Linked DNA regions of Homo sapiens: region 2 is linked to region 1. A link means that fine-mapping ties the variant in region 1 to the expression of a gene that starts in the linked region. Tissue or cell type: tibial nerve. Region 1 holds a variant in brackets; the other region holds the start of a gene. All regions are shown on one strand. Distances are between the middles of the regions.

The links. PIP is the estimated chance that this variant, and not a neighbour inherited with it, causes the effect.
Region 2: it holds the start of INF2, and the variant in region 1 is fine-mapped to the expression of INF2 in tibial nerve (GTEx, PIP 0.97).

What each region holds. Positions count from the first base shown.
Region 1 is chr14:104,653,179-104,661,277 of GRCh38, forward strand. It overlaps LINC02280 (long intergenic non-protein coding RNA 2280), which reads right to left. Exons shown (of 2, transcript NR_135293.1): 2 at 7,942-8,099. Among named protein-coding and RNA genes, the nearest start is that of LINC02280, 8.3 kb to the right of the region's middle. RefSeq lists enhancers at 1-249, 2,667-3,167, 3,168-3,668, 3,885-3,994, 5,145-5,274 and 3 more. The variant CA/C (reference allele first, on the strand shown) is at 4,868.
Region 2 is chr14:104,685,711-104,693,800 of GRCh38, forward strand. INF2 (inverted formin 2) reads left to right here and starts at 3,908. Exons shown (of 23, transcript NM_022489.4): 1 at 3,908-4,029. RefSeq lists enhancers at 1,902-2,889, 2,890-3,879, 7,834-8,090 and silencers at 3,572-3,831, 3,932-4,021, 4,042-4,281, 4,372-4,421.

The DNA.
Region 1 (8,099 bases):
AGATATCTGCACACCCGTGTCCACAGCAGCATCATTCACCAACACACGAAGGTAGAAGCAGCCCAGGTGCTCACGGATGGATGAACCTGGTGTATCCAGGCCTGGCGCGGCGGCTGGGCGAACCTGGTGTATCCAGGCCTGGCGCGGCGGCTGGGCGAACATGGTGTAACCAGGCCGGGCGAGGCGGCTGGGCGAACCTGGTGTATCCAGGCCTGGCGAGGCGGCTGGGCGAACCTGGTGTATCCAGGCCTGGCGAGGCGGCTGGGCGAACCTGGTGTATCCAGGCCGGGCGAGGCGGCTGGGCGAACCTGGTGTATCCAGGCCGGGCGAGGCGGCTGGGCGAACCTGGTGTATCCAGGCCTGGCGAGGCGGCTGGGCGAACCTGGTGTATCCAGGCCGGGCGAGGCGGCTGGGCGAACCTGGTGTATCCAGGCCTGGCGAGGCGGCTGGGCGAACCTGGTGTATCCAGGCCGGGCGAGGCGGCTGGGCGAACCTGGTGTATCCAGGCCGAGCGAGGTGGCTCACGCCTGTAATCCCATCACATGGAAGGCCAAGACGGGTGGACCGCTTGAACTCAGGAGTGCAAGACCAACCTGGCCAACAGGTGAAAATCCATCAATACAAAAAATACGAAAATTAGCTAAACATGCTGGTGTGCGCCTGTAGTCCCAGCTACTCAGGAGGCTGAAGTGGGAGGATTGCTTGAGCCCAGGGAGGTCGAGGCTGCAGTGAGCCATAATGGCGCCACTGCACTCCATCCTGGGCAACAGAGCGAGACCCTGTCTCAAAAAGAAAAAAGTGGCGTATCCATCAAGGGGAATATTATCCAGCCTCAACAACACCAACAACAACAACAAACACAGGAGGTCCTGACACAGGCTGCCACACAGCTCAGGCTTGAAGACATTATGCTGAGGGAAAGAACCGACACAAAAGGGCAAGTGCTGCCTGACTCCATGTTTGTGAGGCTCCCAGAGCAGTCAAAACCGCAGAGACAGAAAGCAGAATGGAGGGTGCCAGGCTGGGGGAAGGAGGGTGTGGGGAGTTTGTGTTTGCTGTTTCAGAGTTTCCGTTTGGGAAGGTCAAAAAGTTCTGGAGATTGGTTGCACAACAATGCGAATGTACTTACTGCCACTGAACTTGAACTGTACCTGGAAACATGGGAAGACGGTGTGGAAACAAGCCCCCAGTCAGCTGGTCTGGCAGCTGATTTGATGCAGATCAAGAGGGAAGTGAGGAATCGATAGGGAAGACTGTGATCACCCCTAATCGGCACAGACAGATAGGAGGTGTTAAGGGGGTTCAGAAGAGGTTAAGACATAGGAGAGATGGATAAGAAGGTTTTCCGTACTTCCGATCGAAATTCCAGAGGGGCTGGGCACAGTGGCTTATGCCTGTAATCCCAGCACTTTGGGAAGCCACGGCAGGTGGATCACTTGAGGCCAGGAGTTCGAACCCAGCCTGGCCAACATGGTGAAAACATATCTCTACTAAAAATACAAAAATTAGCCAGGCATGATGACGGGTGCCTGTAATCCCAGCTACTCGGGAGGCTGAGGCAGGAGAATCCCGGAGAACCTGGGAGGCAGAGGTTGCAGTGCAGCCAAGATTGCGCCACTTCACTCCAGCCTGGGCAGGAAAGCGAGACTCTGAAGAAAGAAAAGAAAAGAAGCCGGGCGCGGTGGCTCACACCTGTAATCCCAGCACTTTGGGAGGCTGAGGCGGGCGGATCATGAGGTCAGGAGATTGAGACCATCCTGGCTAACATAGTGAAACCCTGTCTTTACTAAAAATACAAAAACTTAGCCAGACGTGGTGGTGGGTGCCTGTAGTCCCAGCTACTCGGGAGGCTGAGGCAGGAGAATGGCGTGAACCCAGGAGGCGGAGCTTGCAGTGAGCAGAGATCATGCCACTGCACTCCAGCCTGGGTGACAGAGCGAGACTTGCCTCAAAAAGAAAAGAGAAGGGAAGGGGAGGGAAGGGGAAGGAAGGGGAGGGAAGAGGGAGGAAAGGAGGGAAGGAGGGAAGGAAGGAAGGGAGGGAGGGAGGAAGGGAGGGAGGGAGGGAAGGGAAGGAAGGATGGAAGGAAGGAAGGAAGGAGGGAAGGAGGGAAGGAGGGAAGGTGGGAAGGCGGGAAGGAAGGAAGGAATTCCAAGAGGTGGAAATAAATAAAACGGGGAGAGCCCACCAGCTCCCTGACAATATGGCTGAGAATTTTCCAGAACTGATAAAATATGGAAACTTCAGCCTCAAGAGTGCAGCACTCTCAAGCAGGAAGAATAAAAGCAGCCCATACCTAGCTGTCCCGTGGTACACTCAGAATGCTGAAGGAGAACTTGCTGGAGGCAGACCCCGCGAACGGCAAGAACAGGAGCAGATGACCGTCTCTGAAGTGCCGAGGCAGAGGCAGCAGCCGGACCCACACGCCCTGCTCCACTCCCACTTACGGGTGTGGGAGAAGCATCAGATCAGCAAAATGACTGCGCCACCACCCAGCTCCTTAGCAGAGCAACCTCCACAGAATACAGCTCAGAAAGAGGGGACGCCTGGGCTGCCAGAAAGAGTGGGGTGCAAACATGTGCAAACCTCAACGAGTGCTGGCTGTGTGCAACAAAGCCCTGTGGAAAGTGGAGGGTGATAAAGGCAAGGCAGACCTGAGTATTGGGCAGTCGTAATGATCTGTGAGCCAGGAGGGGCGTGATCAGGAGGAGGATGGAAACACTGGCTATCTTTGAATTCTAAATATACTTGTTAAAATTCTAAGAGTGACTATTTTAAAATAGAAATAGAGCATATAACTTCCACTTAACTCTCCAAGGAAAAAATAGAATGTCAGACTGAGCCAGAGCCATGGAAGAGTGCTCAGGCAGCGGGAGCTACACGTGCAAAGGCCCTGGGGAAGGAGGGAAGAGGCGCATGCCTGGCACTGATGTCAGTGCGGCTGGAGGCAGACGGGCGCAGAAAGGGGTCTGAGACGTGGCTGAAGGCAGCAGGACCAGACAGGATGGGGCCTCAGGGCCGTGGTTCTGAGCTTCATTCCAACAGCAGGAAAAGGGAGGCATGTTTGTAACCTGCAGGGAGGCGGGAGCCATGGACAGGATTGCATCTGTGACTTGCCAGCATCCCGCCGGCTCCCATGGGAGCAGACTGCCCTCAGGCCCCAGCGGAGGGAGGGAGAACAGACAGAACAATTTTGGCCCCTGGACATGGTGGCGGCAGGGGAGGTGGTGAGCAATGCAGGAAGGGAGACTTAGGAAGCAGTGCCTAGCTCCTCGGTGTGGAGGCAGTGAGGGGAGGGAAGAACACGGAGAGAGGCTGGCTCGGGGCTTGACAAAGTGGTGGGGTGTCCCACGGGAGGCAAAAGCAGATGGTGGGGGCGGGCGAGAGAGTCACGGTTCTTTCAGCCTCATCAAGTGTGTGTTTCTGAGGACGTGGAGGGCGGTGGGAGGCTGACGGTGCACAGACAGCGCGGGAGCGGGGGCGGGGGGCAGTCTTCATAGATGAGATGGGGCACGGCCCCTCCGGAGAGGAGGCCTCTCCTCGGGGAGAGGAGGGGATGACAGAGGCAGAGGTGGGGCAGCCAGGGAGGTAGGAGGGTGCTATGGACTGAAGTGTGGCCCCCCCAAATCCTTATGTCAAGCCGCAACCCCCAATGTGACTGATTTGGAAATAGGGTCTTTAGAAGGTAACTACGACCTTTACGAAGTCATAAGGGTGGGCCCTAATCCAACAGGGCTGTGGCCTTCCAAGAAGAGGAGGAGACACCAGAGGTGGGCGCAGCAAGGCCGGGAGAAGGTTTCATGAGAAACCAGCTCTGACACTGGTGGCACCTTGATCTTGGACTTCCAGGCTCCAGAGCTGTGAGAAAATAAAGGTCTATCGTCTAAGCTGCCCAGGCTGAGGTCTTCTGTTACGGTAACTTGGGCTCACTCATCCAGAGGGGAACCAAAAGCATGTGGGGTCCTGGCACCCACAGGCAAGCGCTGTCAAGAAAGAGGAAGCAGAAAGCATGTGCATGGCTGCTCCTTCAGAGCCTGCAGAAAACTGTGCAGACAGGGCACGGGCACAAACCCATGTGAGCAGAGAAGCATCTCTCCGGGTGCACACCCGCACTGCTGAGATGCACCTGCCCCCGCAGGGCTCAGATGTTCCCTGTGAGAGCAGTGCCATCCCCCACGCCTCCTGAGGCTGCCTGGGTCCCATAATGGCCACCGTGCCATCTCCTATCCCACAAGCCCTCCTAACCCTGCCTCTCCCTCGTCAAGAGGCAGGGGCTGTGTCCCCTCCCCTTGAGCCTGGCCAGGCCTTTGGGTCTCTGCTGACAGAGGATAGCAGAAGTGAGCTGGGTTAGCTTGGTGCATTACAGTTGCTCACGCCTGTAATCCCAGCACTTTGGGAGGCCGAGGCAAGACGGTCACTTGAGCGGAGGAGTTCAAGACCAGCCTGGGCAACATAGTGAGACCCCCCTCTCTACAAAAAAAAAAAAAATTGTTTTAATTAGCCAGGCATGGTGACACACATCTGTAGTCCCAGCTACTCACAAGGCTGAAGCAGGAGGATCGCTTGAGCCTAGGAGGTCAAGGCTGTAGTGAGCCATGATTGCACCACTGCACTCCAACCTGGGCAACAGAGCAAGACCCTCTCTCAAAAAAAAAAAAGGGACTGGGTGACTTGCAAGGCTATGTTCTGTCAACTGACAAAAAATAGACCAACACTGTAGATCAGGAAACAAAAGAGAAGGAGGGCCTCAGGAACTGCGGTTCAGGAGACACAGATCTAGCAAGGAGCTCAAACGTGTCTGTGCGGGGGAGGCCGGGCAGGGGCTTACAAAGGTTTGCTGTGAGTCTACACATCCGGAAGCTGTTGG[CA/C]TGGTCCATGACCGACGGTGGGGGCTTAACAGCTTAGGACAGCTCTGGCTGATGATCAATCTAGTCAGGTGTGCCTGTCTCCAGGAGACCAGTGATCAGGCCCGGTGTGAATGGTTCAAATCAAATGCAGCTGGTTCACGATCCGGCCCAGGTCAACAGATCAATTCTATCTGGCGAGTTGGACGGGGTCCAGCTCCTCTTGCCCTCCCAGTTCCTTTTTAGATAGCCCTGACATAACCATCTCCATTACGGATTTTCTTTTCACAGCTCTGGAGTCCACGCACCTCCATCTTGTTCTCCTGGGAGGCTGACTTGGGCTCCAGCCACCATGCCGAGTGAACCATGACAGAGGTGGCCCTCCAGCCCCCACTCGGGCACCCCGGCTGATGCCACGTGGACAGAGATGAGACAGTCCTGCTGAGCCCTGCCCAAATTGCAGATTTGGGAGCAAAATGCATGGTCTCTGGGATTTACGTCTGAGGGTCATTTGTGACGCAGCAACAAACAGATGCATTTTGCCGGTGGCGCATCCGCCCACGACGGAGCCTGGCTCAGCTCTGCAGGTGCGCTGCACCACCCCTGGTGTCCTGGCGTCACTGGTACCTGTTTCTCTCTCAAAGCTGTCCTGGTTTGGAAGATGAGTGGTACAGCCATCCCATCAATGCGAAACCAAAGGCCCCCTGAGGCAGCCCCCACAATTGAAGAGCAGGCTGCCCTCAGAAGGGGCCCAAACCCCTGCCATTGGACCAAACTGGCTGATTTAGTTTCCTGCCCTCTAAAGTGGAAATTAAGAAACTGACAATGAAAATGTCCCCTTTAGGCTGGGAGCGGTGGCTCATGCAGATAATCCCAGCACTTTGGGAGGCTGAGGCAGGAGAATCACTTGAGCCCAGGAGATGGAGGTTGCAGTGAGCTGAGATCGCACCACCGCACTCCAGCCTGGGTGGCAAAGCGAGACCCTGTCTCAAAAAAAGTCATAGCTTGACTTCCAGAGTCTTCCTGTCTGCCCGGTGCTGGTCGGTGGTCTCTGGAAGCCCTCCAGCTGCCACCTTCCTTTCTGTCCCTCCCCGGGAGGGATATGCAGGCCCAGAGGAGGTGACTCCAGGCGGGTGGTCCCAGAGGAAGGGGGCTCCACCCTTCCCCTGAGTAGTGGGGAATGTGGCTTCACCCTTCCCCTGCATAGTGGGGAATGTTTGGGATCTGCTGGGAGGGGTCTGCCATGGGGGCAGTGTGGGAAGGTACTCAGAAACCACCAGCACCCCCCACCCTGGTGGCCCTGGATTCTGGTGGGGCCACTGGAAGCCCGGACCCATGCAGGTCTCAGCAACATCACCCCCTCCACAGTGAGATCCGTGTCAGAGTGACCCGCCCCAACCAGTCCCAGGGCTCCCTGCTTCTCAGACCCTCCCTCCTTCCCAGCCCAGAGCCCCTCCCTCCGAAGCTTCCCTTCTCCTACTCCACCCCTGCTGTGGGGAGAAAAGACCTGCAGAGTACCCCAACAAGCCCTCTGCACTGGGGGAGGGGTGCACGTCCACTCACCCAGAAGGGGATTGGGAACCAGAAGCCAGGTGAGCCTCCCTGAGATCACAGGGCCTGATTCCGGGACCCCAGTGTCCAACACCTGCCCCCCCAGGGTGCTCCACAGCCCCTGCCTACACCTCAACCCCCCTCCACCTCCACATCTGTTCAGGTGATGTCCAACACCACCCGAATCTTACTGACCACTGGTGAGAAAGGGAGGGGCGAGGTTGGCCTCTGCATGGTAAAGCTGGGTAAACTGAGGCAGCACGTTCTGGGCAGCCCAGGACGCCCAGGTTCCCGCCAGCCCACGGCCTCTCCCGCCTTGCACGGGCTTCACAGTTTGCCAGCGAGGGCACAAACGGGGGCTCCGCGGGCCGGCGACTCACCGCGCCTTCCCTACCCCGCCCCAGTTTCTCCCATGGAGCTGGTCTGCAGGCCCGGCATCCACAAGCCCCACCGCACTGCACCGCTCTGCAGGTCGCTGGCGCCTGTTCTGGCCTCGCTGGGACCCCCACCCAGACGCACCCCACAGCCAACTCCACCGGACCCACGCTGCCCGAGTATTTTTAGCAGAGGGTCAGATGCCTCTTAAACCTCAGCTGAGACGTGAATTTCCTCCCTGACAGCTGCGGCCAGGAGCCGCACGTCCTGCCTGGCGGGCGTGGGCGGTTCTGACCTCGGAGGCACAGCTGCAGGGTCTGCAGTCCTCTGGGAACTTCCTCCTCCCAGGTGCCCCGATTTGGGCTCCCTGGGTGCCTCCGCCCCAGGCCGCCCACCAGGCGCTCACTTGCCCGGTCCTCCGTCTGGAGCCCCTCCCGATGGCCGTCGCCACCCACTCTCCTTCTCTGTCTGGAAGCTTGGAGAGCAAGAGCAGAGGCCTGGGTTCAGATTCTCAGGGATCTGGGTTCAAGTCCTGCCCCCACCCCCCTGCACTTGGGAAAGCTGCTACCTCTCAGAACCCGTTTCCTCCACTGTGAAGTGGAAGGAAAATTGCCCACCTGGGGGCTGTTGCGACTATAACCAGCCAGCGGTGCCTGCAGCACCCACAGACCCCCAGGCGTCTTCAGGGCTCCCTGTGCCCCAGCCAGCGCCAGGAGCCTGCAGGACCGAGAGGGGCCCTGGCAGGGCTGCACAGATATTCAGATGTTCAGACCTGAGGCCCAAGACCTGCCTGCCAGGACAGGGACGCTCCTGCCTGGGGATGCTGGGGTCCCAGAAAGTGAGAAGCAGTGGCCCAGCGCCCTCTGCTCTCACTTCCTCCCCACCAAGCACAAGTACTAATTACGCACACCTCAGCTCCCCGGGGGGGCCAGGAGGAAATGCCCGGCAGAGCCCTCCGTCCTACCCCGTGCAGCCTGGGTCTCCCTCCACGGGCCCAGCCTCTTCCACTGCTGCTTTCAGTTACCCGGCTTTGTAGGCGCAAACACCCTGTCTGTTTTCTTCTTTCTCAAGCCATCTTAGCTGCTTTTGATCTGTATTCTTCCATGTAAAATGTAGACTACATTTATTTATTTCTTTAAAAAAAAATTGAAGCCCAAATGAGACTCCAATTAGAATTGCATTGAATTTATTATGTCCCCATAATTCTCTGGGGAGAATTATGTGTTTATAACATTACGTTTTCCTGTCCGTTCTGTTAGGCTTGCTAAGTAAGCTGACATGTGATCTGCAAATGATGGCAGATGACTGTGTGAGGTGGCCTTGGGAATG
Region 2 (8,090 bases), 33 kb after region 1:
ATAGGTGGGTGGGTGGATGGATGAATGGATGGGCAGATGGATGGATAAGGGTGGGTGCATGGGTGGATGAATGGGTGAGTAGGTGGGTGGATGGGTGGATGAGTGGATGATGGGTGGGTAGGCCGATGGGTAAGTGGATGGTGGGTGGATGGATGGATGGGTGGGTGGATGGATGAATGAATGGGCAGATGAATGGATGAGGGTGGGTGGGTGAGTGGCAAATGGGTGGGTAAGTGGGGGGATGGGTGCATGAGTGGATGATGGGTGGGTAGGTGGATGGATGGATGGGTAGGTGGGTGGATAGGTGGGTGGGTAGGTGGGTGGGTGGATGGACAAATAGATGGGCAGATGGATGGATGAGGGTGGGTGGATCAGTCGGTGGGTAGGTGGTTAGATGGGTGGATGAGTGGATGATGGGTAGGTGGATGGGTAGATGGATGAAGGGATGGGCAGATGGATGGATGAGTAGATGATAGGTGGGTAGGTGGATGGGTGGATGGGTAGGTGGATGGATGTGTGAGTGGATAGGTGGGTGGGTGGATAGATGAATGGATGGGCAGATGGATGGATAAGGGTAGGTGGATGAATGGGTGGGTAGGTGGGTGGATGGGTGGATGAGTGGATTAAGGGTGAATAGGTGGATGGGTAGGTGTATGGATAAGTGGATGGACAGATGGGTGGGTGGATGGATGAATGGATAGGCAGATGGATGGATGAGGGTGGGTGGGTGAATGGGTGGGTAGGTGGGTGAACAGACGGATGAAGTGTGGGTGTGTGTGGGAATGGATGGATGAATGGGTGAATGGGTACATAGGTGGGCAAGGTGGGTGGACATGGGTGAGCAGGCATGTTTTCACTTACTTCATTCTGTAACAATGTCAGAGATCATCTCAGGGCACCACAGTAGGATGCAAAATAAAATCTCAAAAGGGGAAAAAAGATAAAAAGCATTCTGGGTGCTGAACTGATGAAGGAAATGAACCCATGGCCAGGCTGCTGCTCAGGTGGACCCCAGGAAGCCCTTCTGGGCCTGCAAGTGGCCGCCTGCTGCATGCAGGGCTGTCCTGACTGCACGGCGGCGCCAACATCAGGCTGGGAGGATTTCTCTCAGAACGCCCACACCTGCCTGCCTGTTTCTAGCAGAACTCAAGCTGTCGGTGCCAAGGCCTGCTCTCCCCTCATCCCAATCTTCCAGCAAGAGGCAGAGGCAAGCTCTCCACAGGCCTACAGTGGCAGGGCCACTCTTGCACTCTGTGCCAGTGGCCAGGAACATGTGGCTCCGCCTGGGTGTGTCACAGTACCAGCCTGTACCTGCACGACCCTGTTCTCAGGCATCTGGGTACCTGCAGCTGGGGGCCGGCACTTGTGTACCCGGCTCCGAGGAAGGACCGACACCCAGGAGGGGAGGCTCCAGGCAGGCCATGGCTTCCAGGAAGCAGCTCCGGAAGCCGCAGGCAGTGGCTGCAGGTGGTGTGTTTCTGAGGCCAAATCGGTCCTCTCTTCAACCCCAGGGCCAGGAAGCAAGCTCAGAATAGGGCCAGGATGGAGTCTGGGAGCGCTGGAGGTACAGAGGGTTGAGGGTGAGCCACTGAAGGAGAAGAGGAGGGGGCCTCTGTATGTCTCAGAAAATCAGTGCTCAAGCCGGGTTGAACCCTGCTGCCCCGGGCATGGTGGGTTCAAGCCTGACGGAAAACCCCCTTTCAGTGTCCACATTTCCACCCTCCCAGACCTCTGACCTCGGCCTCCACTCCACACACACACACACACATACACACACACACACACAGACACACACTCTTAATCAGGGCCCAAAGCCCTCCTCTGCACTCCCTGCCGACCCCAGGGACTTCTCCAACCTCTCTCCAACTAAATCACATTCACCCCACCTTCTTCACCCTGCTCCGGCCTGTGCTGGCCTCTCTGGACCAGGTGTGCAGCTCGGAAGCACGACTGGGTGCAAGGGAGACAGCCCCAGGCAGGAGCGGCCCTGGGGGCGCTGGGCCTCCCTCCCCCATCAGGGCAGGAAAGGTGGACCCCTCGCCCACACCTGACCTCCTACTCCAGCCTCTGAGTAAGGCTCAGGACTCTGACTTTCCCCCAGGCAGGTGGACAGGGGAGGGGGCTGCAGGTCAAAGCTCACTCCCCACCAACCTCCTCACATTCCTCCATTCACTGGATCAACAAACACACCCACTGCCCAGCACCGCTGCCAGGCATCAGCTCCCAACGCAGATGAGTCAGCCCCGCCCGTGCCCTCCAGGGTGGGGTGGTACCAGGGCAGGCACCAATGTTCGGGTCCAGGAGTGCACCAGGAGACCCAAAGCCCAGCTTGAGGGAGGGCAGGAAGGCCTTCTGCTCTGGAAGGGGCCCTGGAGCCCGGTGTGGAGGGCCGGAGGCCGGCCTTCCAGGTGCATTCCAAGAATTGCAGAGTGCCTGTCTAGGAGCAGCGGCCGCCCAGGTTGGAGGGTGTCCAGTGAGCGCCTGCCTTGGCTGGCTCCTCAGGCACACCCGGGGCTGTGGCCTGCAGCTGCTCCTGCACTGGGGCTGAGCCAGCAAACTTCCGGGGCTGGGGCTGCTGGGCAGGGCAAGGTCCGCACAGGGAGCAGACAGACGCAGCCTGCAATTCGGCGCTTATCCCCACCGGAGCGGAGGCACACCAAAGCCAAAGGACACGCAGCTGGCCTCAAAGCAGAAGCTGCATCGGGGCTGGGAAGCCATTCAGGAGCCCTTTTCTCTCCCCTCGCCCTCACCCTGAGCCCTGGCCGCCACGGCCCACACAGCAGGCCCTCCGGAGAGAGATGTCAGGACTCCGAGTGGAGACACTTTATCCGCATGTTCTTGACCCTCATACAGCCCTTACGGGTACTTATTCTATTTTACAGATGGGGAAACTGAGGCTCCACAGAGTCATATCCGAGCCTGAGGCCGCACAGGGAGTGCTGGCGCCGGTTCTCAGGGCAGGGGTTGTGTCTGCTCTGTCACATGTCACACGGGGGCTCCCCCAGGCCTGCCTTCCTCTGCCCTCCCTCTAGCTGCCAGTGGCCCCCAAACCCCAGGCCTGGTGCGCTGCTTCCTGCAGCTCTGACTGAGGGTCAGACGTCAGAAGGGACTTCCAGAGCTGGGGTCTGGCTCTCATCCAACCAGGCTGGCTTTCAGAGCCGACTATGGGCACGCCCCATGCTGGTCAATGTCGGCGGTGGGGGGATGGGTGCCCCCCTCAATCTAGGAGACAGATGAGGCCGGACAGCAGAGGGGTGGCAGAGAAAACCCACCCCATTGCGACACCTCCGCGGCCCTCATGCAGCTGTCTCCACCAACCGGCGAAGTGCGGCTGCCCAAGACCGCCGAGACCCCATCAAGGGTGGAAGGGGGTCAGGCAGGGCTGCGGAGAGGAGGCCACATGGGTGGCCTGGTTGATGGGTAGGCTCTCTCTCCCCAAAGCCTGGGAAGAGCCATCTCTGCTGAGGGATCCCCGAACGCGGGGACTCCGGATCCGGCTGGCTGGAACGGGAGTCCCGGGCCGGGGCAGAGAGAGGTGAGCGGCGCCTGGGAGGCCAGTCCCACCGGAGGATAGGGGTGTAGGTGGACGGGAGGCGGTGGAGGGCAGGGACGGGGCGGACAGTGGGGGCTGAGGCGGGAGACGGCCCCGATCTGCGCGTCCCACCCCCATCTCCGCCCACCAGGAGCCAGGCCAGCAGGGACCGCGAGGGGGCGGCCAGGTTATTCACGGGAGTGGGGAGACCCCTTAAAGCGCCCTCAGGGACCGGCCACAGTGGGCGGGGCCACCCCCAGCCACCCACCTCCCCCCCCAGGCCCCGCCCCCGGCCCGCGCTCGCTCCCCACGTGGCCGCTGACGGGCGGGGCGGCACCTCCTCTTCCTCCCGCCCGCCCCGCCCGCCCCGCGCCCGCCAGGAGCCACCGTCCGAGCCTTGCGGAGCGCGGCAGTGGGCGCCGGCTGCCCGCAGCCCCTGACCCGGCCCCGGACGGAGCGCCGGCCGCACCACCGCCCTCTGGCCGTTGCCTCACCGGGTAAGTCCTTGGCCTCGGGGTCCGCTTGGAGCTTCAGGGGAAACTGAGTCCGGGAGGAGGCAGGGGCGTGCTTGGGTCCAGGAGCGAGGTTCCGGGCTGCGGCGTGTGTGCCCAGGTGGCGGCGGGCGGTCCGGCGGCGCAGGGTACAGTTCCCGGGCGGGGACCCCAGGGCGCCCCTGGCCCCCCCGGCTCCGCGCGCCCCGCTCGGGACTATGGTCCTCCGCGCCGAGGCACCGCCCGAGCGCGCACTGGCCGCAGAGTGGTGGGCCCAGGGTCGGCCGGGCCTACTCCCAGGGCAGGCGGGATTTCCGCGCCTCGCGGCTGCCACATCCTGACCATGAATCAGCCACAGTTGGGAAAATAAACTTCAACTTCGGGTCCGCCGCCCGGGTGGCACCCCGAGGTGCGCGCCGGCCTGCGGCCCCACCCTGACTGCTTGGCTTCCAGCTGCCCACGCGCAGGTGGGCGCACAGGGAGCCCTTCCCACCCCGCAACCGCTGGCAGGCTTAGGGGAATCAGCCTCCATCACAGCTCTCTGTTCCTTTTGGGTGGGGTAGGATCCAATCCCTGTACGCCCCCAGACCCACCCGTCAACCCTCTAACTGGGGAGTCGCCCCAGGAGTGACCATGACTAAGGAGGGGAAGGCGGGGTGACCAGCTGTGTCCCTGACCGTCCCCAATGCCCCCTGGGGAGCACAGGCGTGGGGGGTGGTCTGTCTGTCTGGGCCTTCTGGGGCTCAAGCTCCCCACCCAGGGCTCCCGCAGCTCAGCTGTGACCACAGCATTACTGCCCACTCCAGCTGGACACACCAGGAGGCAGAGAGGCAGAGACCCTGCCCAGGCAGGGAACCAGGAACCCAGGAACCGGGCCAGAGGTCAGGCACACCCAGAAGGCGCTGGACGTAGGAAATTCCCTTACTGCCAGCCCTGCCCCTCCGTCTGGCACTGGAATGGAGCAGGATACTCGCCCTCTTCCGGCCTCAGTTTCCACATCTGCACTCTGAAGGGTGGGACAGCAGCTCAGGCTGGGACCTGCTCCCTGCCGCCCTGCACTGGGAAGGTGGGGTCCCAGAGCAGTGCCTCAGACCCCGAGGGTGCCACCCAGCCAGGGGCTTTTGGGGTGTCGGTGCTCAGCCCCCAGTGCAGCAAATAGTAGCATTGGGTTCCAGGCCTGGGGTCTGAGACCTCACACTGCTCCCACCCCTACCAGGGCAGCAGCAATTTTCTGTTCTAAAAGCCAGGTTGGTGCAGTGGGCCCTGCCCAGGCCCTGCCCTCCCATCCCTGGACTGTCATGGGCCCTGCAGCCCGGCAAAGGGGATGTCGCTAGTGGGGACGGACCAAGTGGCCAGGTGCGACTGTAGCCTCCACAGCCAGGGCTCCTGAGTTAACCTTCAGGTGAGCGCCCACTTTGTGGAGGAGCTGACGGCTGTCAAGCGAATGACACACACCGCACATGTGGGGACGTGGAAGCTCCTACCTGAAATAGACTCTGCGCCTTCCATCAAAGTGCAGTTACTTCCTGGGTTGGAAAAGTTATGCGGTTCATGCAGGCTGCGGGAGGGGTGGGTGGTGACTGGAAAGTGATGCGGTGCTGCCTGTGGGTGTGGGGCAGGACGCAGCTGGCCCAGCTCTGGACGGGGACAGTGAAGTAAGCTCAAGCCCCTGGCTTTTTGCTGGTGCCTGGAGGTCAAATTTCCCTGTAGTCAGGAATGAGACCTGACTCCCTGCTGCCAGCCCCTCCCCTACCTCCATCTTGCAAACAGCAGGTGTCTGATAGGTGTGTGGTTCATGGCCCAGTGGACACATTACATTGGAGAAGGCACACCCACCTCTGTTTTCAGGATGGTGGACGGGAAGGCCGGGAGGTGGAGGCCACATAGGAGCCAGTCTCTGGAGGGTGGTCCCCAGGGGCCACAGCAGACCCAGGCCTAGTGGACACCTAAAGTCAAAGACTAAGTTCTACCAACGGTGGGAAGGAGAGAGGGCAGGGGCACGGGCTCCCCGTCGCTGGAGGGGTGAGCAGGGTCCAACCACCTGGCCCCCTGTTAGAGAGGCTTCCACTCCTGCCAGCCTCACCCTAGGAGGGAGAGTCCTGCCTGGTCTGCCTCTGAGCACCCAGACAGCCTGGGTCCTGAGCTGGGGTGAGGTCTGCTCACACAGCTGCCCCCCAGCCCAGTGCCGGTATACCCTGGCAACCACCAGGCCAGGAGAGCAGGGCAGACCGGTGGTGCCTGTCCTCTCCTGAGGGGCCGTCCTCTCTCACAGCCCTTTCTAAGCTGTAATTAAATAAGGAACCACAGGGGTTGCTTAGGGTCGCCCCTCTGAGGGCTCATGTCAGTCCCCGAGGGCCAGCCTCAGGCCGGGTCTGTCCACTCACCATTCACGCCAGCCTGGGCAGGGTCTGTGTGCTGGGTGAGTGGGTGAGGAGGAAAGGAATGAGCCAGCCTGCGGGGTCCCTCCGCACGGTCTCCCACCCTCATCCCTCCCAGTGCGACGTGGGTCCTGCAGGAGCGTTCATTTCACAGGTGAGGCGCGGGACAGTCGGTGCCATTTTACACTCAGTGCCATCCATTCTGCCAGGAGGTGCTGATAAAGCCCCTACTGTGTGCATCTGCCCTTGTGCCCAGAGCCTGGAGCCCAGCCCCGCTCAGCACGGTGCCAGGCAGGTGCAGGGCACTTACTGGGGGTCAGGGTGCAAATGGGCTGGCCCCACAGAGTAGCTGGAGGCCGAGGCCCCCCAGCCCTTGTTGCTACCACTGGGGTAGGCTCAGGGTGCTGGCACTGCCACTCTGGGAATAGGACAGGCCTGTCCTGGTCAAGTAGCCATTACCGGGCCTCCAAACTCGGGGGTTGGTGGGGCAGGAATAGGCCCGCCCTCCAGGCAACCACCTGTGTCACTCCAGAGCAGCCCATGCAGACAGACAACTGCCCAAGGGCCAGCCTGGACCCCGGAGCCCTCCCAGCCAGTCGGCCTGGGTCACAGCCTGGGTGGAATGACCAGTGTGGTCACAGCCCAGATGGGATGACTAGCGTGAAGGCCCTGAGGACCTTGCCACGCCAATGGCCAAGGGCAAGGGCCAAGGCTGCTTTCCTCTTTCGCCTGCAGCTTTTCCCAGAGGCAGCAGGGAGGGAGAGAGAGGTACCAGGAGAGTCCTGAGAGAAGGGCCAGCCTGGGCTGCCCCGAGCCTCTGTGCCCTCAGTTCACTCCTGTTCTCACCCCAGAAGGGTGACTGGCCGTGGCTGGGGCACCCTCCATCTCCCTCAGCCCCAACCTCTGTCTGTTGGAAATGGCATGGAGACCCAGAAGGAGCAGATGGGCACCACTGGAGGCCTGGCCAGGCTCCTGGCCGCCGATCAAGGCCTTTGCAGGGTCAGAGGGACATGGGAAGATGCTGCCAAGGCCCCTGGCCCTGGTGCCCTGGGCAGGGACCCTGTGCTCCCGTGCTGTGACAGCGTTATACCACCCCACCTGCTTCCTGTGACCTGGACACAGTCTGAGCACCCCAAGGTCCAAAGTGGGAGAGGTGGGGTGGGGGAGAGGGAGTGGGGTGGATTGGAGGGCTGTCCTACTGTTACAGGGCTCTGCCCCGGGCCCACCTCACAGTGAAGGCAGAGGCCCCCAGGCAGCCCTTGGTGGGCCAGAACTCAACCAGGAGCCACACTGGGGGCGGAGGGCAGGCTGTCTGCTTCCCATTTTGCAGACGAGGGCTAGTGTCAAAGCCTAGCTTTGAGGCTAACCCAGGGCACAGTTGAGGAGGGAGGGAGAGGGAAGCAGTGGCCGCTGAGCACACCAGCCCCGGGTAGTGGCTTTTCTGTATCATCTCCAAGCCCCCATTCAGCTGCTGTGGGCAGAGGCCAGCCCCAGCCCCTCGCTCTGCCCAGCGAGTGGCCAGCTGCCCAACACGCATGGAGTCCCAGTGGGCATGGCCAGTGGTGCAGGGGTTTGTTCGTGCCTGAGCTGTCCTGGCCCTCGCCGGGTCGGGGGTGGACGTGGCCAGCTGTGCGAGGAGGGCCAGCATCCCACTGGCCTCCATCTCCCCATCTGTACCTGGGTCCTTGC